Homo sapiens: one gene and its partners. The protein of the gene in region 1 interacts with the protein of each later gene in a pairwise test. Each region holds a gene or a part of one and is shown in the gene's direction. Other genes may lie near its edges. The genes, in order: SNX12, REEP6, CCT8 and PACSIN1.

Region 1 (8,266 bases):
AAAGAGTGTATGTGCTTTCATTGTTGAAGGAGTGAATTGAATGAGAAATTGTGGTCTCCTACTTGGGCTTTGAAATCTTATTGAGAAATTATGATTTCCAGATTCCAAGTTTGGCAAAGTCCAAACTGAAGAAAGAAAAGTGAATAGCAAAACATGAGAAACACTTGTCTATATAAGAACTATGTGAAATCATGTCTTTGGGGGAGAATGGAATTTAGGTCCTTCAGAATATGATAAAAGCAGGAAATTGTCAGTGCTGGAGAACTTAGTTACCTGAGGGAGCTTGGGCATGACTAGTACAGCATAAGGGCTGTCTGCTGTGGGGTTTTGGAGACATTCAATGCATTACCCAAGAGTCTTAGGGATTCTGAATGAAATCGCTCTTTACTCAGGGTATTCTTTTTTTTTTTTTTTTTTTTTTAAGAGATGGAGTCTCGTTCTATTGCCCAGGCTGCCGTGCAATGGTGCAATCTCGGCTCGCTGCAACCTCCGCCTCCTGGGTTCAAGCAATTCTCCTGCCTCATCCTCCCGAGTAGCTGGGATTACAGGCACATGCCACCATGCCTGGCTAATTTTTGTATTTTTAATAGAGACGGGGTTTCGCCATGTTGGCCAGGCTGGTCTTGAACTGCTGACCGCAAGTGATCCTCCTGCCTCGGCCTCCCAAAGGGCTGGGATTAGAGGCGTGAGCCACCACGCCTGGCCCTACTCCAGGTATTCTAATAGCAACAGGGACTGTTCATCTAGTGCCTACTGTGTACCAGGCACTGAACTAGGTTTTAATTTGTGTTAATCCTTACAGAACTTCGTTTTACACATGGGAAACTGAGGAGGAATGCAGTTTAAGTAACTTGCCCAAGTACACGTAACTATAACTGACAGGGCTGGAATTTGAACACAAATATGTCTGACTCCATATTCTTTCTGCTACACTTCTGTCTCCTTGACAACACTTAGTAGCAAAACTTTAGCATGCAAAATTTTTCTACTCACTAAACTTTTAATCGGTCCCTTCCACAATTTTTTTTTTTTTCGAGACAGAGTCTCGCTCTGTCACCCAGGCTGGAGTGCAGTGGCATGATCTCAGCTCACTGCAACCTATGCCTCCCAGGTTCAGGCGATTCTCCTGCCTCAGCCTCTGGAGTAGCTGGGACTACAGGCATAAGGCATGGTGCCACCACACCTGGCTAATTTTTTTTTTTTTTTTTGAGATAGAGTTTTGCTCTTGTAGCCCAGGCTGGAGTGCAGTGGCATGATCTCGGCTCACTGCAACCTCTGCCTCCCGGGTTCAAGTGATTCTTCTGCCTCAGCCTCCCAAGTAGCTGGGATTACAGGCATGTACCACCACGCCTGGCTAATTTTTGTATTTTTAGTAGAGACAGGTTTCGCCATGTTGGCCAGGCTGGTCTCGAACTCCTGACCTCAAGTGATCCGCTTGCCTCGGCCTCCCAAAGTGCTGGGATTATAGGTGTTAGCCACCATGCCCGGCCTAATTTTTGTATTTTTAGTAGAGATGGGGTTTCGCCATGTTGGCCAGGCTGGTCTCGAACTCCTGACCTCAAGTGATCCATCCACCTCAGTCTCCCAAAGTGCTGGGATTACAGGTGTGAGCCACCACGCCTGGCCTTGTTTATTCTTTTTTTTTTTTTTTTTTTGAGACAAAGTCTTGCTCTGTCACCCAGGCTGGAGGGCAGTGGCATGATCTCGGCTCACTGCAGCCTCCGCCTCCTGGGTTCAAGCGATTCTCCTGCCTCACCTTCCTGAGTAGTTGGGATTACAAGCACCTGGCTAATTTTTGTGTTTTTAGTAGAGACAGGGTTTCACCATGTTGGCCAGGCTGGTCTCGAACTCCTGACCTCAAGTGATCTGCCTGCCTCGCCTCCCAAAGTGCTGGGATTACAGGCGTGAGCCACCGCATCCAGCCCTTATTTATTCTTTTAAATAAATAATGGTTTAGTAATCTTACTTTATATGAATCTCACTCCATTTCAACCTATTGACATTCCTTGGACCTTGACGATCCTGGATGGAGTTTAATGTACAATTGGCCAGTTATTTGGCTTTTGATGGCCTATTTGAGAACTGGATCCTGAAAAGACAATTTCCAGTGTCAAGGAGTACAAAGCATGATGTAGTGGGTTCTGTGTGAAGCTCTAATGGAGTTTCGAGTTGCTCTTTTCCTGCCAAGAGGCAGTTGTGGAGAAAGGAGATAACTAGTTTATTTTATTCATCCTCTCACCTGAATTGACTGGCAGTAAATATGGTCAGTATTAATACATGTGGTTGGCCATTTCTATTTAGAACTTGTAGACAGGAGTGAAGATCAGGGTTTTCTGTCAGGGGATTCGTGTTGCCACTAGAGCCTTGGGAATCTTCTCAGTGTTTAAAATGTGGGAATGAGCTGATTTATATCAGGGAGCAAGCTATGGTAAGCCAACTTTTGTAATGGTGATTTCTTATGCATTTTCTAGATGAGGAGAGGATAAACAGACACATAGAGTCTCTATTAATCAATTGAGCATTTATTGAGTAACTTGCATATTCTGCATTTTAGAAGATGCAGAAGTAGTCATAGTTTCTGATCTTAATGAGATTAGTTAGTTAGACAAGGCAAACATGATGCATAAAACAATAGTGTATCAGGCAATGCTAAAGTATAACTGTCAGAAGAGTTCAGAGAGGAGGAAAACCAATAAATCCAGTTGTTGTTGTCAGAAAATTTTTTTGTTTGAAGTGAGAGTTGAGTGAGCACTGGTAGAATGGAGAGGATTTGGACAGGAAGAGCAGAGGTAGGCATACCTTGGATGTGTTTATCTCTTTACAGGGAATTTAAATTCACTTTTTAAAGGAAAATGTAATATGTACACATGATAAATTCAAATTGTACAATGAAAAATGTGACTATTCCACCCATTCCAGTTGTCTTCTCTTACTCTCGAAAGTCAATCACCATTACCAGTATATTTTCATAAATACTTTATTAATCAGTATAAATATATACATATACATCCCTTTTTAAAACACAAATAGAGGCAAGCTATATATATATACTGTTCTATACCTTGATTTTACTACTTAATATCTTTCCATACTGGCACATAGAGATCTTTCATTTTTATTTCGAGAGACAGAGTCTCTGTGCCAGATTACAGTAGCATAATCACAGTTCACCATAGCCTTGACCTCCTGGGCTCAGGTGATCCTCCTGAGTAGCTGGGACCACAAGCGAGCACTGCCACTACACCTGGCTTTTTTACTTTTTGTAGAGATGGAATCTTGCTATGGTTGCCCAGGCTGCTCTCAAACTCCTGGGCTCAGGTGATCCCTTGCCTCGGCATCCCAAAGTGCTGGGATTATAGGTGTGAGCCACTGCACCTGGCTTTCACATTCTTTTCATAGTTATTTAATATTCTACTATACAGGTATACCATAATTCATTGTAACCTATTGTCTATTCATAGACATTTATTATTATTATAAATAATAAAATGCAGTGAAACTCTTTTTTTTTTTTTTGAGACAGAATCTCACTCTGTCTCTCAGGATGGAGTGCAGTGGTGTGATCTTGGCTCACTGCAACCTCCGCCTCCTGGATTCAAGTGATCCTTTTGCCTCAGCCTCACAAGTTGCTGAGATTACAAGTGTGTGCCGCCACACCTGGCTAATTTTTGTATTTTTAGTAGAGACAGGGTTTCACCATGTTGGCCAGGCTGGTCTTGAACTCTTGACCTCAAGTGATCTGCCTGCCTTGGCCTCCAAAAGTGCTGGGATTACAGGCGTGAGCCACCAAGCCTGGTGAAAACTCTTATATGTACATATTTACATACTACTGCAAGTCTACTTGTAGGATAAATTCAAAGCAGCAAGGGACTTCTGATCATCAGCTATGATAAGGTTGGATGTGGTAAGGGTTGGTTTTTACCTGGTGGTGATTTGAAGGGGTTATAGGAGCATGATCCATAGGAGCTATTTCTTCATTGGGACCTGTCCAAGTTACTCAGACAGGTGGCTACCACAGGCTGAACATTACCATCTTTCTTCTTTAATTTTTCCTTCCATGTAGACAAACCTACCTATCTTCAAGCTAAAGGAGTCCTGCGTACGGCGGCGCTACAGTGACTTTGAGTGGCTGAAAAATGAGCTGGAGAGAGATAGCAAGGTATGGCTTTGTTCTCTGTGTGGCATCTTTGGAGGAGGAGCTCTGCATAGGCTGAGTGGGCATACAACCACAGTCTATAAAGTCTTGAAGGGAATGAAGAGGGTGAACACATTCTTATCCATCAAATCTCAGTATTTTAGATCGGGGGGATACCTTTTGAAACTTGAAAGTGGTAAGTTCTGGCTGGGCACAGTGGCTCACGCCTGTAATCCCAGCACTTTGGGAGGCTGAGGCGGGCGGATCACCTGATGTCAGGAGTTCAAGACCAGCCTGGCCAACATGGTGAAACCCCGCCTGTACTAAAAATACAAGAATCAGCCAGGTGTGGTGGTGGATGCCTGTAATCCCAGCTACTTGGGAGGCTGAGGCATGGGAATTGCTTGAACCTGGGAGGCAGAGGTTGCAGTTAGCTGAGATCGTGCCACTGCACTCCAGCCTGGATGACAGAGCAAGACTCTGTCTCAAAAAAAAAAAAAAAAAAAAAAGAAAGTGGTAAGTTCAGGACAAGTTTTTTTTTTAAAGTATTACTTCACTTAGTCGCTAGTAAAGTTGTACAACTTAATTCCTGTAGGTGCTAAAAATGGAAAGTCTAGTGTCAGGAAAATCCTAGCTAAATTCTTGAATGGTAGTGGCTTGTTAAGGAAAGTGAGGATTATTTGGAGTTTATTTCCTTCTTTTGAGGTGGTAAACCTGTCTTCCCACAGAAACGGATTAATTTTTGACCTGAGCCATCCTGACTGTTCTTATGGTCTTAGTTCTTGCAAGTTGCTGGCTGTGGGACAGGATGGACCCTATGCCTAATAAGAAATGAGGTACACGGTGCTTTACCATCTCATTCCCACTCTGTCTCTCTCCCATGTGGCTGGAATTTTGTGTGTGCCTGCAGATTGTAGTACCACCACTGCCTGGGAAAGCCTTGAAGCGGCAGCTCCCTTTCCGAGGAGATGAAGGGATCTTTGAGGAGTCTTTCATCGAAGAAAGGAGGCAGGGCCTCGAGCAGTTTATTAACAAGTAAGCCAAGTTCCTGGGGGCTCCACTTGCTACTTTTGCCATCGTAGTCTTTCTATATGTTTTGTTTACCTCACCTTTTATTTTATTTTTATTTACTTATTTATTTATTTGAGACAGAGTCTCACTCTGTCACCTAGGCTGGAGTGCAATGGTGTGATCTCGGCTCACTGCAACCTCCGTCTCCTGGGTTCAAGTGATTCTCCTGCCTCAGCCTCCTGAGTAACAGGGATTACAGGCGCCGGCCACCATGCCCAGCTAATTTTCATGTTTTTAGTAGCGATGGGGTTTCACCATGTTGGCCAGACTGGTCTCGAACTCCTGACCTTAAGTGATCCACCTGCCTTGGCCTCCCAAAGTGTTGGGATTACAGGCGTGAGCCACCGCACCCAGCTCACCTTTTATAATGGGTACCATGATGTGGTGCCAATTGTGTGGTGGGCTGACTGGACAGTAAAACTCCATTCCTTTGAGTAGGATTCTGATCCTGTGTGTCAGGGCCTGAGAAAGCACTGCATGTTGGTTATATCTAGGGATTTCCCTGTCTTGCCCCTCTATCCCCCGTCCCCTTTACAATATTAGGGTTGAGGTGGTACCCTACTGCTGTCCTCTACTGGCTTGAACCTCAGGGCTGACCTTGCCCTTCTTCCCCTGTCCACATCCCCATCCCTCTGCTAATTCTCTCTGATTCTGAATACTACTGATAACCATCCTGGTTTCTTTATAGAATTGCTGGGCACCCACTGGCTCAGAATGAACGCTGCCTACACATGTTCCTGCAAGAGGAGGCAATTGACAGGAACTACGTCCCGGGGAAGGTGCGCCAGTAGGAGCCCCTCTCACCACCTGCCCTCTACTTTCCTGCTGAAATGACATTGGTTTTTACACTAAGCCTCTCTCTGTCTTTGATCTGAAGTTGGCTGCCCATCTCCTGGCCTGATAGACTGTCTGGCATTGTGCTCCCTGGTACCTGACTACACCATGTGGGCACTCTGCTAGGATCCTCTTCTCTGAGGAGAGGTGGGAACCCACAGGCAGATGCCCTTTGCTTGGGGTTGGGGTGGGTGGGTGGGGGGATTAGACTGGAAGGCAATTTCTTGGGCATTTACCCATGCCAGAAGGCTAACCTGGGGGGAGGGGGGCGCTTGTGCTGGTGAGGCACTTGGATACATACTGATGCTGCAAGTTCAGGGGATTTTTCTTACTCTTAGGTTTAACCAAGAACACTGAGCAGGGAAAAACCCTGCCTTTCCTAACTGCATGTATTTTTTCCTTTTTGGAAAGGTGGTAGAGACTCAGAAGCTTTCCTTGTTTTCTTCAGGCCTGCTCCCAGTTTTCTTAACAGTTTCTTTTGTTGCTTTCTCTCTCCCTTGTTGCTTTCCATGGCAGTAATCCTCCTAGAGTCCAAGCAGTCTGTTGTATGGAGCAGGGTGTGTGGGTTTTCTGGGCCCATCATTATGGCTGCTTCAGAGTCAGAAGAAAGCCATAGGGCAGTAGGGGAGCTCCTATTGCCTAGCCCCTCTCCCTTTGTGGCTCCCACTCTAGCTGCCTATTTTTGCTCATCAGCTGGTGAGTCAGTATGGGCCAGCAGTTCTCCCTCCCTAAGCCCTTGCTACTTTATGGGTTAGCTTTGCAGGTTTGGTGGCTTGAGGGGTGGGGGCAACTCACCACTGCCAGGTAACTCCCTGAAGGGTGGGAGTGGATTATCTTCTAGGCTCTTACCCGCGGTAGGGAAGGGCATCAACACTGTCTTCCTTCCATTCTCCTTTCCCCCATCCCATTTAGTGCTGCCACAGGGCAGAAGCACACAAACCAACCACACAGTCTCTGACTTCTCCTAAGCACTTTGAGTTGTTGAATGGGGCTCAGGGGCAAGAGTTTTTGCTGCCCTCCCCAGCGTGGTCACAGGGTTATTGAACTGCCTGCACTTGTTTCTCATGCAACTCCAGCATTTTCCCCAGAAGTTGAACTATGGATAGCAGCTTGGTATGGATTTCCTAAATCTTAACATTTGAAGCAGCTTCTTGAGGCTGGCAACTATCCTGGTTTCTGTCTTGGAGGGGGTGGTTTGTTTGCTGGGGCCCAACGTCTGTCCCAAGTGGTGGGGTGAGAGTAAGTTAACTTTGGTGCCAGGTGAGAGGTGGGGGCTCTTTGCTTAGACTCCCTATCATGGAAAGATTGGAGTTTTCTATGCAGGGCACTGTGGAAAAGGATTGCTGATTCTGACTGACCCTGATCAGAGAGATTAGGATTGTATTTTGACATAGGATTTGGAACCCATCTAAATGTTGAAGTTCCCTGAGACAGCTCTCCAGCTGCTGAGCCTGCGCCAGGGGCTAAGCAGCCCCTAATGAGAGGCTCTGCTCCCTTTCCCACCTCGCCAATGTTGTTGTTGCTGCCTTTTTGATTTGTATCCTCTGTTATAGACATTTTTTAAAAACGATTTCCTCTTTCATTGTGCACAAGTGCTGAGAGTCTGAGGCCCCATTTCTGCTGTGTATATATATCCTGACTCGGGGCTTTTATTCAGCAAACTGTTCATTCTTCTGTCAGACAATGTCATATTCAACTCTGTTCATATTAAACCACTGTGAAGCAAGCCTCTGTTTTCCTGCTTAAGTTGTAAATTTAGTATTCTTTAGTGTCTAGGATATGCTGGGTATTATGCAGAAATCATACAGTGTGGCCAGTGTCCTGAGGTAATGTTTTGCATTTAAATTTTTTTAGAAAGCAGAATCTTAACTTATCTTAATGATATTTACCTATCCTTTTTGCAACTCACAACTGACTTTGTCACAGAGGTAATGCATCTGCTTGCAGGAAGTAGCTGTAGGCTCAGTACCTGTTGTTTGAGTCAGATTTAGCAGATTTGGTTTTTAAGCTTGTGGGTTTGTGCTAATTTGGGCAGAATATATTTATTATATATGTGTGTGTGTATGTGTGTATGTGTGTGTCTGCATATGTAATACATGTACATAAACACACATGCATGTGTTCATCCTCTGACACACCCACACAACACCAACAAACATTTCTTCTATAGGCTTTTTATCTCAACTGACACTGTTTTTTTTCCCAAATAAATTTGACACAGGCAGA
Region 2 (5,925 bases), on another chromosome or scaffold:
GGGGGACTCCTCCTACCCCTGACCTTGGGTGCTTTTGGATAAAGACTAAAGCAGGTGGGAGGGGCTGGGGGGACTTGGGCCTCTGCCCTTTGGTCCAGAAGTGGCCTCTATCTCACTCTGCAGATAGCAGCCCCAGGGGAGGAGGAAGAAGGCTGTCCAAGCTCTCTGGAGCACATAGGTTCCCTGTGTGACCTTGGGCAACACCCACCCACCCCCAGTTTTGGCTGTTGAATAATTCAGGAAAAGCACAAAACCTGGCACACAATAGGCGCTTAATAAATGCAGCTGTCGTAGTCATTCTTTTCAGAGCCAGGTTCAGGATTGGGGCTGAGCTGGACACACACACACACACACACACACGTTTTTCTCTGAACACCCTCCTTGCTGGGACTGTGTTATAGTTGCCTGAAGGCACTTAATAAATGTGCAGAAAGGCTGATGGCGGTGGCTCACGCCTGTAATCCCAGCAGTTTGGGAGGCCAAGGCGGGCGGATCACCTGAGGTCAGGAGTTTGAGACCAGCCTGGCCAACATGGTGAAACCCCGTCTCTACTAAAAATACAAAAATCAGCTGGGCATGGTGGTACGCTCAGCTACTCAGGAGGTTGAGGCAGGAGAATCACTTGAGCCTGGGAGGCGAGCTTGTAGTGACCTGAGATTGCGCCACTGCACTCCAGCCTGGGTGACAGAGCAAGACTCCATCTCGAAAATAAATAGAAATAAACGTGCAGAAAGGCGTTCTCTCTGTTAACTTGTAACCATAGGAGGCAGGGGCCATTACTACTCCCACTTACCAAGGGGGAAACTGAGGCTCCATGCAGCCACAGCCTCACTCAGTGCCGGCTGGTGAGTGCACACCCGACCAAAGGGCTCTCCTCCACCCAGGGGATCGAGATGCTGGGGTTTGCTGCCTCCAAGACAGGAGGTTCTCAAAGGGGGTAGCCCTGCCCCCCACCCCGCCCCAGGGGACACTGGGTGATGTCTGGAGATACCTGTAGTCGTCATGACTTGGGGGCTGATGGCATGGAGTGGGCAGAGGCCAGGGACACTGCTCAGCACCCTGCAGTGTCCAGGACAGCCACTTCCCCCTCTCCACCGAAAACAACCAAGAATGACCCGGCCCTGAACATCAGCAGTGCCAAGGCAGAGAAACCCTGCGCTAAGATAACAGATGAAACAGTTGCCTTTCTCAGCTCTAGAATCAAGTCTTCATGACAGCCTGGCCTCCCTTGCAGGTTTCTGCCATCCCTTATATTGAAACACTGGCCTGTTTTCCCAGTGCCTCCCAAAGGGCCTGGAATGAGATGGCTATCGTTGCAGATTACACTTTTTTTTTTTTGAGACGGAGCCTCACCCAGGCTGGAGTGCAACGGCGCGATCTTGGCTCACTGCAAGCTCCGCCTCCTGGGTTTACGCCATTCTCCTGCCTCAGCCTCCCCAGCAGCTGGGACTACAGGCACACACCGCCATGCCTGGCTAATCTTTTGTATTTTTAGTAGAGATGGGGTTTCACCGTGTTAGCCAGGATGGTCTCCATCTCCTGACCTCGTGATCCACCTGCCTCGGCCTCCCAAAGTGCTGGGGTTACAGGTGTGAGCCACCGCGCCCGGCTGCAAACACTTCACTGGGCAGCTATTCCGCACCCACCCCCACTGCCCAGCGTCGAGCTCCTGCCTGCCCTTGGGGAGCTCTCAACCCCGGTGGGGGACATGGACACGTTGACCAGTTACAGGCACAAGGCTCAGGGCCTAGAGGCACGATGGGGGATGTACAGGCACATCAGGGGCAGTGGACATATCCTGGAGGCGGCTCCTGGGAGGAGGTGACGGTTGCAGTCTTCGTCGACTGAAAGGCGGCCTGGGTACCGTCGTGGGGGCTCAGCGGGTCCCCAGCCCTGGCACACCACCGCCTCTCTCCGGCAGGAGCCGTCACTCTGCTAAGCCTGTATCTGCTGTTCGGCTACGGAGCGTCTCTGCTGTGCAATCTCATCGGATTTGTGTACCCCGCATATGCCTCGTGAGTGCACGGCTGGCTGCCCACGCGGGGGGTTCTGGGGGCTCCCTGGCAGCCCCTGACCCTGCTGCACCCTCCCTGCAGAATCAAAGCTATCGAGAGCCCAAGCAAGGACGACGACACTGTGTGGCTCACCTACTGGGTGGTGTACGCCCTGTTTGGGCTGGCCGAGTTCTTCAGCGATCTACTCCTGTCCTGGTTCCCTTTCTACTACGTGGGCAAGGTGGGCCCTGCCAGGGCGGGCACAGCCGTGGAGCGCATGGGGCTTGGGGATTCCTGGGAGGCGCTGGGGCCAGAAAGTCCGGAGGATACCAGGAGATGGGGGATGTGAGGGGAAGACTCAGTCCCTTCCCTGGGGAAACGAGCCCTGTCCGGGGGCTGATGGTGGAGGGCCCACCCTGAAGGGTGTCTGATGGTGGAGACCCAAGCCTGCTCCAATAGGATGTCCGATGGTGGAGGGCTCACCCTACAGGATGTCTGATGGTGGAGGGCCCACCCTGAAGGGTGTCTGATGGTGGAGACCCAAGCCTGCTCAAATAGGATGTCTGATGGTGGAGGGCTCACTTAAAGGGTGTCTGATGGTGGAGACCCAGGCTTATTCCAATAATATGTCTGATGGCACAGGGCCCACCCCTAAAGTGTGTCTGACGGTGGAGACCCAGGCCTGTCCCAGTAGGACGTCTGATGGTGGAGGGCTCACTCTAGAGGGTATCTGATGGCGAAAACCCAGGCCCATCCCAATAGGACGTCTGATGGTGGCGGGCCCACCCTAAAGGGTGTCTGATGGTGGAGACCCAGTGCCTGTCCAGGATGGGCATCTGGTGGAGTGGTGCAGCCCCTCTCCCCACCAGGGGCACAGAGCTGGGTGGGCCCGCGTGTAACTCCTGCCCCGCCCTGCAGTGCGCCTTCCTGTTGTTCTGCATGGCTCCCAGGCCCTGGAACGGGGCTCTCATGCTGTATCAGCGCGTCGTGCGTCCGCTGTTCCTAAGGCACCACGGGGCCGTAGACAGAATCATGAACGACCTCAGCGGGCGAGCCCTGGACGCGGCGGCCGGAATAACCAGGAACGGTGGGTGCTCGCAGGCGCCTGGCTGCCTCAGGCCATCTCCCGGGTCTGGACCTGTCTCTCTCCACCTTGCCTCCCTTTCTGACTTTGGCCGCCCCCTCTCACTGTCCGCCTCTCTCTCTCACGCTTCCGGGAACCAGTCTTGCAGGTCCTGGCCCGTAGCCGGGCAGGCATCACCCCGGTGGCTGTGGCCGGGCCCTCCACTCCCCTGGAAGCTGACCGTACGTAACCGCTGTGGGGAGATAGGAGCTGTGTGTGTGTGTGTGTGCGCGCGCGCGCGCGTGTGTTTGAGCGTATGTTTGCTGTGTGCACATGTATTATTGTGTGTGCATGTTTTGTCATGTGCAAGAGGGTGCGTGTGCATGGGCTCAAGTGTATGTTTGGTGTGTGAGTGAGCAAGGGAGTGAGCATGTTTTCTCACGTGTGCATATGTGTGTGTGTGCCCACGTGTGCATGTGAGTATATGTGTGTGCGTGTGACCATGTGTGCACGTGTGAGTGCGTGCGTGTGCATGACTGCACATGCGTGTGCTCTGTGTGCACCCATCTGTGCATGGGTGACCATGAAAGCCTCTGTGTGGTTGACACCATCTCTGCTGAGGGTGGCTGCCCGGCCCCTCGACTTGTCATGCTCATAGCCAGTAGCCTCAGTCCCGCCTGCGAGCAGCTCCGGGGAGCCCAGGCCTGCCTCACGGCCCTCCCCCACCCGCCCCTCTCTCTGCAGTCAAGCCAAGCCAGACCCCGCAGCCGAAGGACAAGTGAAGCAGCCCCCTGAGCCTCACAAGGACCTCCTGGCTGGTGAGGAGGGGGCCGCGCCAGGCTCCCAGGCCTCCACAGAGTCTTCAGCGCATCCCCCAACAGCAGCCCCTGCCAGTCCCTCGGGTCCAGGCAAGGCCCTGGGGGTCTCCTTAAATGCCACCTCGGGCAAGTCCCAGTCCCAGTCCTCGGCCACCCCCAGCTCTGGATCCCAGGGCCAGCTGCCCTCTGGCTCTGGCTGTGGCTCCCGCCTGTCCGGCAGGGCCCAGGGCCAGCGTCGGGCACAGGGCAGCTCCCACTGGTCTCGGCAACACACCCAGCCGCCTGGTACTTCCTCCAGCCCCTCCCAGTCAGCCCTCCCGTCCTCGGGGCCCCTGCAGCCACCCAACGTCACCTCCAGCCCGGTCTCACCCATGGTCCAGTCTCCCAGCAGCAGCAACATCCCCACGCAGCCCCCCAGCAAGTCCTCTGGCAAGCCGGAGGACGCAGCCCCCAAGACCAGCGGACAGCGCCAGAAGGAATCGTCGAAACAGCCTGCCAGCAGCGCCTCAGTGCCCGAGCTGGTCCCCTGCCATTCCGGGACCTCTCTGGAGTACACTTCGGAGTCCACCACCGAGATCACCTGCAGCTGGCCACACCACAGGCCCCCGTGCCTGCAGCACTACTGGTGCCTGAAACACCTGGCCTGCTAGGAGGCTCCAATAAAGCTAACCCGGACCAGACCTGTGTGCCACGTGTGCGGGGGGCCCAGGGGAGGGGCTGCGAGGGCACCGTCCCATTTCATCAGGCATGAATCCCGGCTGTGCCGACCAGCCCCATAATATAGATGAGGAGACTGAGGCCCAGAGGCTAATTCACCCACTCAAGGTCCACCCACATGGCCAGGATGGGTGCAAGCCCCGGAAAAGCTTGTCCTTAATCACAGTGCTTTCTCTCCTCCCTCCCGAACTAGTTGTCTGGCCTATTTGCATTAGCCTGCTTCTCTTAAAACTCCCCCATTTGGGTGCGGTGGCTCACACCTGTAATCCCAGCACTTTGGGAGGCTGAGGCAGGTGGATCACCTGAGGTCAGGGGTTTAAAACCAGCCTGGGCAAAATGGTGAAGCCCCATCTCTACTAAAAATACAAAAATTAGCCAGGCATGGTGGTACATGCCTGTAATCCCAGCTACCTGGGAGGATGAGGCATGAGAATTGCTTGAACCCAGGAGGCAGAAGTTGCAGTCAGCTGAGATTGCGCCACTGCACTCCAGCCTGGGCAACAAATGAAACTCCATCTCCAAAAAAAAAAAAAAAAAAAAAAGTGAGTAGGATAAACCACAAACCCTGATATATTTTCCCAAGGGGCCATAACTCAGTTATTCTCAACCCAGAACAGTTTTGTCCCCCGGCCTTTGGGTCTTGTCTGGAGACACTTTTTTTTTTTTTTATTGATCATTCTTGGGTGTTTCTCACAGAGGGGGATTTGGCAGGGTCATAGGACAATAGTGGAGGGAGGGTCAGCAGATAAACAAGTGAACAAAGGTCTCTGGCTTTCCTAGGCAGAGGACCCTGCGGCCTTCCGCAGTGTTTGTGTCCCTGGGTACTTGAGATTAGGGAGTGGTGATGACTCTTAACGAGCATGCTGCCTTCAAGCATCTGTTTAACAAAGCACATCTTGCACCACCCTTAATCCATTTAACCCTGAGTGGACACAGCACATGTTTCAGAGAGCACAGGGTTGGGGGTAGGGTCACTGATCAACAGGATCACAAGGCAGAAGAATTTTTCTTAGTACAGAACAAAATGAAAAGTCTCCCGTGTCTACCTCTTTCTACACAGACATGGCAACCATCCGATTTCTCAATCCTTTCCGCGCCTTTCCCCCCTTTCTATTCCACAAAACCGCCACTGTCATCATGGCCCGTTCTCAATGAGCTGTTGGGTACACCTCCCAGACGGGGTGGTGGCTGGGCAGAGGGGCTCCTCACTTCCCAGTAGGGGCGGCCGGGCAGAGGCGCCCCTCACCTCCCGGACGGGGCGGCTGGCCGGGCGGGGGGCTGACCCCCCCACCTCCCTCCCGGACGGGTCGACTGGCCGGGCAGAGGGGCTCCT
Region 3 (8,678 bases), on another chromosome or scaffold:
TTTTTAGAGTCTTGCTTTGTCACCCAGGCTTGAGTCCAGTGGTACAATCTTGGCTCCCTGCAACCTCCGCCTCCTGGGTTCAAGTGATCTCTGGCTAATTTTTGTATTTTTAATAGAGACAAAGTTTCACCATGTTGGCCAGACTGGTCTCCAACTCCTGACTGCAAGTGATCCACCCGCCTTGGCCTCCCAGAGTGCTAGGATTACAGGCATGAGCCACCGCGCCCGGCCTAGTCCACATTTTAGAAAAAGTTTGAGAACCACAATGTTGTATTGGGAACACTAGTTAGCCTTTGTCAAAAGACAAACACCAGGACACCTACCTACCTGACATATTTAAAATAAAAGCACTTCTCGGCCGGGCACGGTATCTCACGCCTGTAATCCCAGCATAGGCCAAGGCAGGCAAATCACGAGGTCAGGAGTTCAAGACCAGCCTGGCCAACATGGTGAAACCCCGTCTCTACTAAAAATGCAAAAATTAGCTGGGCGTGGTGGCGCTTGCCTGTAATCCCAGCTACTTGGGAGGCTGAGGCAGGAGAATCGCTTGAACCAGGGAGTCAGAGGTTGCGGTGAGCCGAGATCCTGCCTGCACTCCAGCATGGTGACAGAGTGAGACTCTGTCTCAAAATAAATAAATAGATAAAAGTACTTTTCCACCTAAGTACTTATCAAAAGCAGATGCATCTGTTTTGACAGGGGGTTCTAGAAGCAAGCTGAGTTTCTATTTCACACATACAGTATTCTGCTGCTTCATAATATATGCACATATATCTTCATATTTTTTTGCCAAACCTTTATTTCTTCAGTCAACTATTATCTAATGACTTTGAACACCAACGTAGTGAAATGATTTTAAAGGGAATGTTTACTTGTTTTGCCAGGGAACAGTGTTGATAAAGACTGCTGAAGAATTGATGAATTTTAGTAAGGGAGAAGAAAACCTCATGGATGCACAAGTCAAAGCTATTGCTGATACTGGTGCAAATGTCGTAGTAACAGGTGGCAAAGTGGCAGACATGGCTCTTCATTATGCAAATAAATATAATATCATGTTAGTGAGGTAAGAAAAAGCCGATTTTTTTTTTTACCTATATCATAAATGGTTTTTTGGTGGTGAAAACACTAAACGAAATAGACCATGAAGACTGTTAATAAAGGGAAAGTAAAGGTACTAGGTCAAATAGCAGAAGGATTTAGTTTGGGGAGGGGTCAGGAAACACCTCTGAGAAAACATAAATTTAAGCTGAGAGCTTGAAGAACCAATTACCAGATAATTGAAGAGGGAAAAGCATTCCAGGCAAAAGGAACAACTTGTCCAAGAGACTAGACACAAGCTTGGTGCATTGCCTATCAGAGTATGGAGTCAGGAAGATCCCTTTTAATCCATGAACACATTTATGGTGCACACTAGACAACTTAACCCATTTCTACCTACCACCATCCCTAGTACCTAATAAAATGTGCAAAATAAATCACTCTTGTTCACAGAACATTGATTGCACAAAGTAAAGCAAAAATTTTCTATATGCTGTTGAGTTTTGTAAGGGTTTCTCTGGTGTTTTAGAACTATAAACCACTGACATCCTAAAGTGACTTCCATTCTCCCAATTCTAGAACAATGCCATACAACACAGGCTTAAGATGTGGTACTATTGGCCAGCTGGACTCACTCAGAGAGTCAGGAATCAGCTTCCTGGCCTTAGTGTTCATTGCAATCCAGACATGTTCTGAGTTAAAATCCATTGTCAAAGGAATGTGACATGGGGGCTGGTATACAGGTTCCTCTTTAATTTGAACTTTATATGCTATCTGAAATTGATTAAAACTTTTATTAAGGTCTTTGTGTTTTTTAAAGGCTAAACTCAAAATGGGATCTCCGAAGACTTTGTAAAACTGTTGGTGCTACAGCTCTTCCTAGATTGGTATGTATTTTGGAAAACACTAAAAGATAGTTGAACAAGATGGAATTTTTATTACAACAGTCACTTTCTTACAGACACCTCCTGTCCTTGAAGAAATGGGACACTGTGACAGTGTTTACCTCTCAGAAGTTGGAGATACTCAGGTGGTGGTTTTTAAGCATGGTATGTAGGAATGGTAAAACATGTTTAAGTGTAGGGCTTTAGCTTCTTGTATTTAATCACCAAATATATTTAATTTTTTGATAGAAAAGGAAGATGGCGCCATTTCTACCATAGTACTTCGAGGCTCTACAGACAATCTGATGGATGACATAGAAAGGGCAGTAGACGATGGTGTTAATACTTTCAAAGTTCTTACAAGGGTCAGTATCAGCAATATTCTTAGTAGTTTGTAAGGTCTGAGTAATTTGTATGGTCTTAAAAGTACAGTTTGCAGACTCTTGCACATCATGAGAACTTCAGAATGAGTGGTTTATATGAAATGAAGCACCTGTTTTTGTTTTTACCTAAGACTTAAGTGTCCATTGTTAGTGAATATGATAGTTTCCAAAAAAGATTGTACAGAGGAGTTAACAGCAAAACAGAGCTTTAAAAAAAATTGTTTATCGTTGTTTTCCATTGTAATGTACTGTTAGTTGCTAAAGCAGTTCTTAGTGCTATATCTGTGGATATGCAAAAATGATACGGTACTATTCCCATTCTTCACTTTGGTCCTTTTCATACACCAGACACTGTGCACTAAGAAAATTTGCCCCACCCACTCATTTTTACCAAATTTGTAATATGTATTTGAGTAACAATGACTGATAAAAACTCCTGTTTGGTGGGGTACTGGAATGTGAAAAGATTAGAAAACTGCAAACTGATTTTTAGTGAATTTGTTTTGTGTTCATTTTTTTTTTGGTGGGGGCGCTACATACAGGATAAACGTCTTGTACCCGGAGGTGGAGCAACAGAAATTGAATTAGCCAAACAGATCACATCATATGGAGAGGTACAGCTTTTTCTGTATAAATTGACTTTCTTTCCATTGCTTGAATAAAAGACAGTAATTAACGCATTTTTGTTTTAGACATGTCCTGGACTTGAACAGTATGCTATTAAGAAGTTTGCTGAGGCATTTGAAGCTATTCCCCGCGCACTGGCAGAAAACTCTGGAGTTAAGGCCAATGAAGTAATCTCTAAACTTTATGCAGTACATCAAGAAGGAAATAAAAACGTTGGATTAGATATTGAGGTATTTGAAAAAACACTGAACTTAAATTGCTTTATTTGGGGAATGCACAACCTAAAAATAGTATGAGTTTAAAAGAAATATCAATGAGAAACAGTGTTCTGATTTGGGAGCAGATTATTTTCTTAGTTTTTACATAGGTTGTCTGATGGAGGAACGTTTCATTTTCCTTCTGTTTTATTGATAGTCTTTTGTTCTGTAGTGTGTAGTCAGCCCAGTTCTGTATCCATTGATTCAACCAACCACAGATTGAAAATATTTGGAAAAACTAAAGACATTTAAAAATACACTATAACAACTATTTACACTATGTTATATAATTAATCTGGAGACGATTTAAAGTATATGAGAGGATGTGCATAGATTATATCCAAACACCATGCCATTTTATGTAAGGGATTTGAGCATCCACAGATTTTGGCATCCTTGGAGGTGCTAGAACCAATCCTCACATACTAAAGGATGACTCTATAAGGTAGGACTGTGCTTGGTTACTTTCCAGTACTATTTAAGGAGCTATGTGAGGCTTTTTGTGGGTGTAAACATTTTCACATAAAAGGATTTTAAATGAAAGGATGAAAATTGTGTTTGACAGGCTGAAGTCCCTGCTGTAAAGGACATGCTGGAAGCTGGTATTCTAGATACTTACCTGGGAAAATATTGGGCTATCAAACTCGCTACTAATGCTGCAGTCACTGTACTTAGAGTGGATCAGGTGAGCAAAGTGAAATTTTGATCTTTAAAAATACTCATTTGCATACTGTTTAATAGTATATTTTCCCAGAACTAGAACATAGCATAGTTCTAATTCAAAGGATTCTTAGTCCTCACCTATTAGAGATACTATGTGCCCCCCTCCAATTTTTTTCTTCTATTATAAATTGTATTGAATATATAACTTTCAAACCTTTTAGCCTTAGAACCCATTTGTACAAATAATTTAGAGAGTAAATTTAATATATAATACTAACATGGAATTTGGAAGGACCATAAAGCTCTCAAGCAGACATTGCAGACCACCAGCTTGAAGGAAAATGGAGTCTCTAGCTGTCTGCAGATAAGAGGACTGGGCATTGAAAATTTTTTCTGCTATGACAAATTACAGCTTGAGATACTAAAAGATGTTAAAGGTGTTTAAAATCATATTTCTACCCTTTTTTTTTTTTTTTTGAAGAATTGTGGTAGACTGTTCTATATATAGAAGTAAACCTGAAATCATAATTATTTTTCCAAAAGGTATTTTCTGGCAAACTTAATTAAATACATTTCCCCACAAAATTCTAGAAGTAATTAATAAGCAATGACTATTTATAAGTACTTAATAGAAAATTTTAATTTGCTAGAGGGACAGTATACATCCATTAGGTAAAAGTCATATGTCATATTAAAGGTGGAGTAAGTCCTAAGTAGAAATCAGTGGAAAGACATTTCAGCTTTTAAGTACAGTAAGGACCAGTTGGTGGTAATTATAACAAATTTATTGGAAGAACTATGATAGCAAGAGATGACCAAAAATGGAACTGGATATTTAGTTTCAAGTCATTGAAAATAAGCAGAAACTAGATGTTTATGTACCAGATTAACGGGTTTCTCTGTCAGCTTATTAGGTGATTTTCAATGGAAGAATATGTTTGAGTTCTTAAATAGAAACCTAAGAAAATACTTATTCTAGAAATTAGAATGTGGCTAAGAATAAAAGGGGAAACCAAAAATAGCAGGGACGGAAGAAGCTAAGTAGACTGCAGCATAAGGAACGCAGAAATTCCAACTGTGTTAGGAACTTTGAATGTCAATTATTCAAGCAAGACAATAACCACCACCCTTGGTCACAAAGGCAGTTTGAATTTTGGCTTTAAACTAGGAAGTCTGCTTTATCTTATGGTAGGGGAAGTTGTTGGTTGATCTGTTCCCCCAGTCTTTGCACTCTATGTGAAGTATGTATCTAAAGAACCCATCCAACTGTATTAACCAGTTTGTGTATATAGTGTATAGTATAATGAACCTAAATTTGTATAGTATATATTCTAGAAAAGGAATTGCACATCAAGCTTTAAGCATTGGATAGTGTAGTACGGACTGGATTAATCTTTGTTGGAATGTCTATTTCACTAGTTCTCAAAGTATGGTCCCAAAATAGTATCAACATCACCTGAGAACTTGTTAGAATGACAGTTCTCAGCCAGGTATGGTGGCTCACACCTGTAGTCCCAGCTACGCAGGAGGCTGAGGTGGGAGGATCACTTGAGCCCAGGAGTTGAAGGCTGCAGTGAGCTGTGATCACATCATGGCACTCCAGCCTGGTTGACAGAGTGACACTCCATCTTTTAAAAAACTAAAAATAAATAAGAAATACAGATTCTTGGAGGCCAGGCGCGGTGGCTCACGCCTGTAATCCCAGCACTTTGGGAGGCCAAGGCAGGAGGATCACGAGGTCAGGAGGTTGAGACCATCCTGGCTAACATGGTGAAATCCCGTCTCTACTAAAAAAAACAAAAAATTAGCTGGGCGTGGTGGCAGATGCCTGTAGTCCCAGCTACTCGGGAGGCTGAGGCAGGAGCATGGCATGAACCTGGGAGGTGGAGCCTGCAGTGAGTAGAGATGGCACCACTGTACTCCAGCCTGGGCGACAGAGCAAGACTCCATCTCAAAAAAAAAAAAAAAAGAAGAAATACAGATTCTCAGATGTCACTCCAGACCCACCAATATCAGAAATGCTGGAAGAGGCCTAGCAGTCTGTTTTAATGAGCACTTTTGATTATGGTGCCCACTAAAGTTTGGGAACTACTTGTTTTAGTGTTTGTTTCTTTTTTTTCTTTGAGATGGAGTCTTGCTCTGTCACCAGGCTGGAGTGCAGTGGTGTGATCTCAGCTTACTGCAACCGCCACCTCCCAGGTTCAAGCAATTCTGCTGCATCAGCCTCCCGAGTAGCTGGGACTACAGGCGCATGCCACCATGCCCACCTAATTTTTTTTTGTATTTTTAGTAGAGACGGGGTTTCACCATGTTGGCCAGGATGGTCTCGATCTCTTGACCTCGTGATCTGTCCGCCTTGGCCTCCCAAAGTGCTGGGATTACAGGCATGAGCCACCACACCCAGCTTTTAGTTACTTTTTAAAATCAATGTGCACTTAGGTTCTAAAATTATGCTTAATGCCTTTAATTCAGTCTGAAATTACTCTCAATTGGTAACATGTTATTCTGAGAATTTCAGGTTTAGGTATCTTTTTTGTTGTTGTTGTGATAAGGTCTTACTCTATCACCCAGGCTGGAGGACAGTGGCACAATCATAATCAGCTCACCACAGCCTCAAAATCCTGAGTTCCAGTGATTCTTCTGCCTTAACATCCCGAATAGCTGGGACTGTAGGCAGGTGCTGTCATGGTTGGCTGAGATATATATCATATATATCTGATATGTATATATCACACATATCATATGTATATATCATACATATGTATATATCATACATATCTCATATATATCATATATATCTCATATCATACATATACATGATATATATATCATACATATATGTATGATATATATTATATATGATATATGTATGATATATGTATCGTATATATGATACATATATCATATATATATTATCAAATGTTATATATATATTTTATATATATATATATTTTTAGTTTTTGTAGACTAGGTCTCACTTTGTTGCCCAGGCTGGTCTCAAACTCCTGGCCTCAAACCTTGGCCTCCCAAAGTGCTAGGATTACAGGCATGAGCCACTGCCCAGTTCAGGTTTGCAGATGGTAATTAAGATGTTTTCCAGCCGAGCGCAGTGGCTCACACCTATAATCCCAACACTTTGGGAGGCTGAGGCGGGTGGATCATGCAGGAGTTTGAGACCAGCCTGGCCAACGTGGTGAAACCCCGTCTCTACTAAAAGTAAAAACTTAGCCGGGCATGGTGATGGGCACCTGTAATCCCAGTTACTCAGGAGGCTGAGGCAGGAGAATTGCTTGAACCCAGGAGGCAGAGGTTGCATTGAGCCAAGATCGCGCCACTGCACTCTCTAGCCTGGGCAACAGAGCAAGACTCCGTCTCAAAAAGAAAAAAAAAAAAAAAGCTAAAACCTATTTATTTTAGATAAAGTAAGGTGAGGTTTGTGGCGCTTTTTTTTTTAAGTTGGGAACTTAGATTTTTGTTTATGAAAATTCCTGGCTGCTTGAATGATTCTCATTTACAGGTTTTAGAAAATTTCAGTGTTAAACTTTGTATATACTTATGTATCAACTACTTTAGATTATAATGGCAAAGCTGGCAGGTGGGCCTAAAGCTCCTAAACCACAAGGAAATTGGGACAGAGATGGTTGGCAAGACACATCTCATATATAAATAGCAAATCAGGTGCCAAACTGACCGACTTACACCAGTGATGCATGCACATATTTTCACTTTCAGCTTTTTGAGTTATTGAAGTGCATGTCTTGGAATGTTCACTAATCTCTGTGGATTTTATTGCGGTTATCCATAAAAGCAGTAAACTTTCTCATGCGCTGAAAGTTTACAATTGAATTTCTAACAAGGGAGCTAGCAAACTCTGTGCTGTAGTGTTTTATATGCAGTACATAATTATACCAAGAAGACTGCTTAATCTTAAATCATGCTAATAGAAGCATTCTTTTCATTCTAAAGGTTAAGTTGATAAGCATACTCTTGTGTGATTCTTTTTTATGCAGATCATCATGGCAAAACCAGCTGGTGGGCCCAAGCCTCCAAGTGGGAAGAAAGACTGGGATGATGACCAAAATGATTGAAATTGGCTTAATTTTTACTGTAGGTGAAGGCTGTATTTGTAGTAGTACTCAAGAATCACCTGATGTTTTCTTATTCTCCTTAAATTAAGAGTTATTTTGTGTTTGTATTCTTGGCTGGATGTTATAATAAACATATTGTTACTGTCAAAGCCTTATTGTCTAATGACCACGGTTATTGGCTCTAAATGACTTGTGTTCCTCTCAACCTTGTTAATCACATTAGCTGTGGGACTTAAGGCAAGTCACTTATGTAAGTAGAGGCCTATTACCCATGTATATCTGGCCTACTGCCTGTTTGTGTAAATAAGTTATTGGAACACAGCCATGCTCATACCATTACATATTGTCTGCAGTTGCTTTCTAACAAGGGAGTGGCAGAGTTAAGTATCTTTATTTTTGACAGAGACCAAATGGGCCTACAAAGCCTAAAATATTTACTATCTGGCCCTCTACAGGAAAGTGCTGCCAACACCTGGACTAGATTTCCAGTGTTTTTGTCACAGCTCTGGAATTCCTGACTCAAGGTGACTTGTTTCAATAGCAATTAATAATTTGTTGAAGACACTCGACTTAGCAAAGTACAAAAAAAATGCTTAGAAAATAGATAAACTGACATACAAAATTAAGTCAGTTTTCATAAAGCAGATTCTATTTTGTTAAAATCAGTAAGGAGTGTTGAAAAAGCCAAGAACATTATAAATAAATTATTATAAATAATCATACTGAATTTTATAGGAC
Region 4 (7,000 bases), on another chromosome or scaffold:
TTTATAAGTGAAAAGTGCCAAGTTAAGAAAAGAAAAATTCAGACTCATTTCTTTGTCCCTTGATGAAATCCAGCCGTCCTCCCTCTCACCCACCCGCACTGTGCGTGAGTTTATGGGAAAGTCTGTCTGTGGTTCTTCTAAAAGGGAGGGAACAAAATATGTTTAGATGCCTGAGGGGTGCAAGAGGCAATACTGGGTTATTACTGGGAAAGAGCCCCAGGCCCTGGACAGATGGGGAGCCCTAGGGGGAGGGACATCCTCCACCAACCATTCTTACGTGTTATTGCCCCTGCCCTGAGCCTGAGAGCCAACTGCTGGACCCCCAGGTTGGGCTGAATCTTACAGAGGCCAGCCTTCCCTGAGCATCCACACTGTCAGGGTTCACAGTCCTGGGACTGCAGTGCAGAAGCAGGGAGGTGTCCCCTGGTGCCGGGATCCAGCTAGAGGCTGGCAGCTTGTATCAGGGCCAGGCGCAGCCTGGACTCTGCTGCCTCTTTGAAAACCAGGCCCTTGGCCCTCTGAGTCCTGGCTCCTGACTACTGAGCCATTCTTGCCTGGGGTAACAGTGAGGCCTGGCTGGGGGAAGGGAGGAGGGGAGTACCCACCTCGGCCCTGGGGCAGCGCACGGCCTAGATTGGATAACCCTGATGCCTGCCGACAGATCCAGGGCAGACACAGCCACCCCAGACGCTCCCATAGATCTCGGTGGTGTGACCTGTGGGCCAGGACACCACACATTTGGGACTCTCAGGAGACTTGTAAGAAGCTAATGGGGGCTGCTGAGGTTGGGAGCAAGGGCAGACAGAAGGGCATTTACAGGGTCCCGGGGCTCAGATAACTGAGGAGGCGCTGAGCCTGGGCTCCAACAGTCCAGGAGAGAGAGCCAGCTCTGGGGGCTGGGGCTGGCTTCTGAACGGAGGTGCTCATACTGGATAGAGGATGGATTCCAGGGAGGGGGAAGGAGGAGGGATGGGGAGTTGGGCATGAGGGTGCTACAGGGCGACTCTTGGGGTTACCTAAGTCTGGTGAGTTAGTCTCTGGACAGGAAGATGGCATCCTAATGCAAGCCTCCCTGGGTCCCATCGGTTTGGGGACCCAGGCCTGGAATGGGGCAAAGGGTGGAAGGCCCTTCCCTCATCTCCAGGGATCTCTCTCCTGCCCTCCCAGTGCATGAGCAGCCGAGCCTGCTAACCGCAGCTCCGCACTTGTCCATCCCCCTGCGGCTACACCATGTCCAGCTCCTACGATGAGGCCTCACTGGCGCCAGAGGAGACCACCGACAGCTTCTGGGAGGTGAGGCTCTCATGATCCCCAGGTTCGGGGACCAGACAGCCTGGCTGTTTGGAGGCCAGGCTCCCTTATCACTCACCCCATGACCTCAGGCCCCACTCCGCAGTCCCCCAGGCCCCTCCAAAGCCCTGGGTGTCCAACAGGCAGCGGTAGCCATGAAGTGGCTAAGAGCACTGCCCACTGAGCCAGGAGCTCCTCTCTCCCCACAGCTGCCCCCAGAGAGAGCCTGTGGCATTTCACAATGTGGGAACAGGCCCTTTGTGACTCTGTGGCACTTCCATCAGGCAGGTACAGCACAGCCTTTCTCAGCTGTTCCTATTTCCCTCGCTCGCCCCCCATCCTGAGGTGGGCAGGGGTGGAGCGCCGGACACAGAGAGAGGGAGTGAGCTCCCAGAGCCCCACGGGGCCGCAGAGCGGGAGGCACAGCCAGAAGCCAGCATTTTCAGAACCTTCGGAAATATTTGAGACCTGGAGAAAAAAAATTGCTATTGGCTCCGGAAACCCAAGACGAAAACTGCCAAACCTAAATTAATAAGCGTTTAATGAGATGTCGACAAAACATAATATTATGTCAAGAAGCTGCAGCTCAACTCAACGCTTATATGACTCTATATAAATATAATAGATTTAACTCGCAAAAACAAAATGAATAATTCATTCCAGCCCAAGTCCAAATTCTAAAAATCCTTCTGCATTTTGTGGCAGCAAGGAAATCATGTTTAAATTGGGGTGAGGGTGCGTGTAGACGGCGGGGCCTGAGGCAGGGTGCTGGAGCCTCCGAAAGTTAGTTTCCCTGGGGTGTTGCCGCTGCGCCGCGGGGCGGGGGGCGGGGGCGGGGGCGGGGACGGCGAGGCCGTAAGCGGGGAGGCGGGGCGGAAGACAGTGGGCGTGGCCGTGCTGGATGCGGCGGGCGGGGCTGGGGACGCTGGGAACCCGCGGGAGTGGTGCTCGCTGCTTGGCCGCCAGGTGGGGAACTACAAGCGGACCGTGAAGCGCATCGATGACGGCCACCGTCTATGCAACGACCTGATGAACTGCGTGCAGGAGCGCGCCAAGATCGAGAAGGCGTACGGGCAGCAGCTCACCGACTGGGCCAAGCGTTGGCGCCAGCTCATCGAGAAAGGTGCTCCCCCAGGCTCACATCGTGCGCGCCCCCAGGCCGTCACGAGCCCCCTAGGTCTGGGTCCTAGGAGCCCCGGCTACTTGCATGCACCATGCCCTCCATCTACCAGACACAGGACATTTTCAGGCGCTGTTCCCTCCTAGATCAAACCAGGCCTACCTGTTCATCTCTATTTTGTACAATTTTAGGTTGAATTAAAAAAAAAAAAACACTTTTTATCTTGAAATAATTCAAACTTTGTGAAAGTTGCAACAGTAGCACAGAGAATTCCTACATACCCTTCCCCCAGGCTCACTGGCCCCACGTTTTCTCACTGACTGTTTATTGATATGCATATTTTCTGAACCATTTGAGAGTAAGCTGGAGCCATTATCCCTGTTTACCCCTAAATTCTTCATGTATCTCCTAAGAACAAGAGCATTTGCTTAAGTAACCAGAGTTCAGCTATCAAATTTGGGACATGTAATACGACCCATACGCACATTTACCATGGCAATTGCGCTTGCTAGTCCAGGATCTAGTGCAGTCGCACATTGCCTCTATGCATTGTGTCTTCAGGTTCCTTTAATCTAGAACAGTTTGAAGTTGCGGTTTACATATACTTGTTCATGTTATTCTCTTGCAGTATACTCTAAACCCCATGAGAGCAGGGGCTGGGCCTGCACCACCTAACACAGTGCCCTGCACAGAGCTGGTGCCAGTACACAAACAACAAGTCAGTGTGGAATGACTGGTCCCCAGTGGCCTCTTGGCATCTGTCACAAGCTTCAGCTAACATTCCTGGAGCACCTACTGTGTGCTTGGCGCTGTGCTGGGCTTGTCAGAGCTCACAGGGTCCAGGCTGCCCCCCTCCGACCCCATTCCATGGGGCTCACATGCTGACAAGAGAGATAAGGAGGAGGGAGGTATGGCCGCAGATACTGTGAGAAGAATGCAGCGAGGGCTGCTGGCCATGGCAGGAGGGCAGAGCAGTCAGGGAAGGCTTCCTGGAGGTGGTGGCTGATGTGGGCCCTAGAGGATGGGGCCACGTAGAGCAGAGGAGGGCATTTCTGTTGCTATGAGAGGAAAGGGAAAGCCTCAGAGAAGGGAGATGTGAGGGGGGGCCTCTGGGCAGGGGCAATGAGGTTCTTGTGACCTATTGCCATTCCCTCAGGCCCACAGTATGGCAGCCTGGAGCGGGCCTGGGGTGCCATAATGACAGAGGCAGACAAGGTGAGCGAGCTGCACCAGGAGGTGAAGAACAATCTGCTGAATGAGGACCTGGAGAAGGTGAAGAACTGGCAGAAGGACGCCTATCACAAGCAGATCATGGGTGGCTTCAAGGAGACGAAGGAGGCTGAAGATGGCTTCCGCAAGGCCCAGAAGCCTTGGGCCAAGAAGATGAAGGAGGTGCTCAGTGGGTGCTGCCACGGGCGGGGTGGGGTGGGCCCGTCTGATCAGAGGGTGCTGATCCCAGGGAGGGCATCTATGGATGGGTGGGCTGGGCACTGCCCTCTGGGATTGTGCCCACAGGGGAGCAGCACTGCCTTCCAGGAAAAAATATTCACAGATGGGTAGGCAGTGCCCATTGGGTAAGGAGACCCATGGGCAAAAAGGGGCACTGTCCCCAGGAAAGATACCAGCAGGGGCAGAAGAGCACATTGGCCCCTGGGTCCCCAGATGGGGCGGGCACTGCACTGCCTGACAGGAGGGTATCTGCAGGGGAGCAGGCAGTGCCAAGCAGAGACGCAGCCACAAATGGAGGAGCGCTGCTCCCGAACACCTGGAGCCAGGGCCTGCATCCCTTCTGGCTCTTAAGAGTGTGGGCTCACAGGTCCCAGGGAGTGGGCAGGGGAGGAGTTAATGGGTGACCATGTTTGCTGCTGGTCACAAATGAAAACCCTACTCCCTATTCCCCCCTCCCCACAGCTGGAGGCAGCCAAGAAGGCCTACCATTTGGCTTGCAAAGAGGAAAAGCTGGCCATGACACGGGAGATGAACAGCAAGACGGAGCAATCGGTCACACCTGAGCAGCAAAAGAAGCTGCAGGACAAAGTGGACAAGTGCAAGCAGGATGTGCAGAAGGTGCTGGCGGGCAGGGATGGCAGTAGGGGGTCTGGGGGCCCCTTGCAGAGGGTGGTGGCTGGGAGCTGCAGGCCTGGCTAGGTGTCACCCTCTCTCCACTCTGGTGCCCACAGACACAGGAGAAGTATGAGAAAGTGCTGGAAGATGTGGGCAAGACCACACCCCAGTACATGGAGAACATGGAGCAGGTGTTTGAGCAATGCCAGCAATTTGAGGAAAAGCGGCTGGTCTTCCTCAAGGAGGTGCTGCTGGACATCAAACGGCACCTCAACCTGGCTGAGAACAGCAGGTACCTGGGCATGGCAGGCACCGAGGGCACAGGCACAGCCAGCAGATGGTGTGACTGGCATGCAGGGCATCCCAGCCCTCCATCACAGTGACGGGAAGGGGAGGCAGAGCTGCAGGGGTCAAGAAGGATGAGGCTTCAAACACAGGGGCTGTTGAGTGCAAGCTGACGCACACTGGGTACTCTAGAAACACATGCTGGATGATGGGTGAATGGCTAAGGTGGGAGGGAAAAGGAGTCCACCGAGCATGCCCGGAGCTTATTCTTGCAAAGCCCACATGATTCCTGGCTGGGCAGCATGCCCAGCACCCTGCTTCCCTGAGTGGACTCTGGCCTCTCACCAAGGTTGAGGAGGGGCCATGTTGAATCTGTGCCCTCCACCTCCCCCATCTCCCTGAGCACAGCTACATCCATGTGTACCGTGAGCTGGAGCAGGCCATCCGGGGGGCTGATGCCCAGGAAGACCTCAGATGGTTCCGCAGCACCAGTGGCCCCGGCATGCCCATGAACTGGCCCCAGTTTGAGGTGAGGATATGTGGGGATGGGAAGGGGAGCCTGAAGAGGCTGAAAGGTGCCTCAGGGCATAGTCCCCCAGCCTGACTGCTCCACTGGCCCCACCAGGAGTGGAACCCAGACCTTCCTCACACCACCACCAAGAAGGAGAAACAGCCTAAGAAGGCAGAGGGAGTGGCGCTGACCAATGCCACTGGGGCGGTAGAGTCCACATCCCAGGCTGGGGACCGCGGCAGGTGAGTGCCTCCTGTGGAGCTTCCTGGGGCCAAGAGGGACCCACACTCTGGGGCAGCTGAGTTTTGCTTCAGAAGACAAGAAATGGTCTAGATCATAGCAACTATGTCTCCTCTCTAAAAGATAGTGGTAGTTCATCACTCTAAAGCAGCCGTCCCCAATCTTTTTGGGACCAGGGACCAGTTTTGTGGAAGACAATTTTTCCACGGATGGGAGCGGGGTGGTTTTCGGATGAAACTGTTCCACCTCAGATCATCAGGCGTTAGATTCTCCTAAGGAACGTGCAACCTGGATCCCTCGCATGCGCAGTTCACAATAGGGGGGTTGCGCTCCTATGAGAATCTAACGCCGCGGCTGATCTAACAGGAGGTGCAGCTCAGGCGATAATGCTCCCTCGCCTGTCACTCACCTCCTGCTGTGCTGCCTGGTTCCTAACAGGCCACGGACTGTCTGCAGCCCCAGGGTTGGGGACCCCGGTCCAGATCACAGGAACCAAGCCTCCTCTCTAAAAGATAGTGGTAGCATATCCTTCTAGAGCACCTACTGTGTGTGGCACGGTTCTATGCACTTTCCATATGTTAACTCATTCATGCTCAAGTGCGTAAATATTACCATTTTACAGATGGAGAAACTGAAACCCAGACAGGTTAAGTGACTTGCCCAAGATCACATTGCTAGTTAGTAAACCTCAGAGCCAGATATGTTGCCCAGGAGGTCTGACTCCAGGATCCTTGCTCTTAAACATTAGGTGGTACTCCTCCTCCCGGATGAAGGCTCAGATGTGCCCTGGGGTCCCCTTCAATGCCCTCTCCCTCGAGGGCTGAATAATAACGCAAATGGTCCTGCATTTAAACATCGGTTTAAAGAGCTCATGAGGGTCACCCCTCCTATGTGGCCAATCCTTGCTCTAGCCTTGGTAGAATTCGGGATCAGGGCTCTGATTAGGAGGAGCGGTTAGCCCTCGGGATGCGGTACGGGGAGACATTGAAGCTGGCTCCTTCCTCCGCGTCTCAGTGTTAGCAGCTACGACAGAGGCCAGCCCTACGCCACCGAGTGGTCAGACGACGAGAGTGGGAACCCCTTTGGGGGCAGTGAGACCAACGGGGGCGCCAACCCCTTTGAGGACGACTCCAAGGGAGTGCGCGTGCGGGCACTCTACGACTATGACGGCCAGGAGCAGGACGAGCTCAGCTTTAAGGCCGGTAGGACGGCTGGGCGGGGCAGTGCCTGAGAGAGGCTTGGGCCTGGATTGGGTGTGTGGTGGTGCAGGGGCGGTGCCTGAGAGAGAAGCTTGGGTCTGGATTGGGTGTGTGGTGGTGCAGGGGCGGTGCCTGAGAGAGAAGCTTGGGTCTGGATTGGGTGTGTGGTGGGGCAGGGGTGGTGCCTGAAAGAGAGGCTTGGGCCTGCATTGGGTGTGTGGTGGGGTAGAGGCAGGATCTGAAGACGGGTTGCGAGGATTTGCAGGGAACTAAATGGGGCGTGGCCTGGGT

The links.
Region 2: the proteins of SNX12 (region 1) and REEP6 interact in binary tests that used the Homo sapiens proteins (3 or more experiments, as listed by UniProt).
Region 3: the proteins of SNX12 (region 1) and CCT8 interact in binary tests that used the Homo sapiens proteins (3 or more experiments, as listed by UniProt).
Region 4: the proteins of SNX12 (region 1) and PACSIN1 interact in binary tests that used the Homo sapiens proteins (3 or more experiments, as listed by UniProt).

The regions. Positions count from the first base shown.
Region 1 is NC_000023.11:71,058,747-71,067,012, reverse strand, and holds the end of SNX12 (sorting nexin-12), read left to right. Parts: exon of another isoform or gene 1-7; intron 8-2,301; exon of another isoform or gene 2,302-2,425; coding exon of another isoform or gene 2,426-2,428; intron 2,429-4,063; coding exon 4,064-4,159; intron 4,160-5,045; coding exon 5,046-5,170; intron 5,171-5,894; coding exon 5,895-5,997; 3' UTR 5,998-7,766; downstream 7,767-8,266. UniProt on the Homo sapiens protein: May be involved in several stages of intracellular trafficking.
Region 2 is NC_000019.10:1,493,373-1,499,297, forward strand, and holds the end of REEP6 (receptor expression-enhancing protein 6), read left to right. Parts: intron 1-1,921; coding exon 1,922-2,015; intron 2,016-2,096; coding exon 2,097-2,235; intron 2,236-2,912; coding exon 2,913-3,081; intron 3,082-3,218; coding exon of another isoform or gene 3,219-3,299; intron 3,300-3,801; coding exon 3,802-3,839; 3' UTR 3,840-4,555; downstream 4,556-5,925. UniProt on the Homo sapiens protein: Required for correct function and survival of retinal photoreceptors. Required for retinal development.
Region 3 is NC_000021.9:29,055,737-29,064,414, reverse strand, and holds the end of CCT8 (T-complex protein 1 subunit theta), read left to right. Parts: intron 1-884; coding exon 885-1,063; intron 1,064-1,858; coding exon 1,859-1,925; intron 1,926-1,999; coding exon 2,000-2,087; intron 2,088-2,171; coding exon 2,172-2,287; intron 2,288-2,847; coding exon 2,848-2,919; intron 2,920-2,997; coding exon 2,998-3,162; intron 3,163-3,754; coding exon 3,755-3,874; intron 3,875-7,862; coding exon 7,863-7,940; 3' UTR 7,941-8,089; downstream 8,090-8,678. UniProt on the Homo sapiens protein: Component of the chaperonin-containing T-complex (TRiC), a molecular chaperone complex that assists the folding of actin, tubulin and other proteins upon ATP hydrolysis.
Region 4 is NC_000006.12:34,525,076-34,532,075, forward strand, and holds part of PACSIN1 (protein kinase C and casein kinase substrate in neurons protein 1), read left to right. Parts: intron 1-1,167; 5' UTR 1,168-1,230; coding exon 1,231-1,293; intron 1,294-2,256; coding exon 2,257-2,413; intron 2,414-3,566; coding exon 3,567-3,802; intron 3,803-4,321; coding exon 4,322-4,477; intron 4,478-4,590; coding exon 4,591-4,766; intron 4,767-5,167; coding exon 5,168-5,288; intron 5,289-5,384; coding exon 5,385-5,512; intron 5,513-6,524; coding exon 6,525-6,712; intron 6,713-7,000. UniProt on the Homo sapiens protein: Plays a role in the reorganization of the microtubule cytoskeleton via its interaction with MAPT; this decreases microtubule stability and inhibits MAPT-induced microtubule polymerization.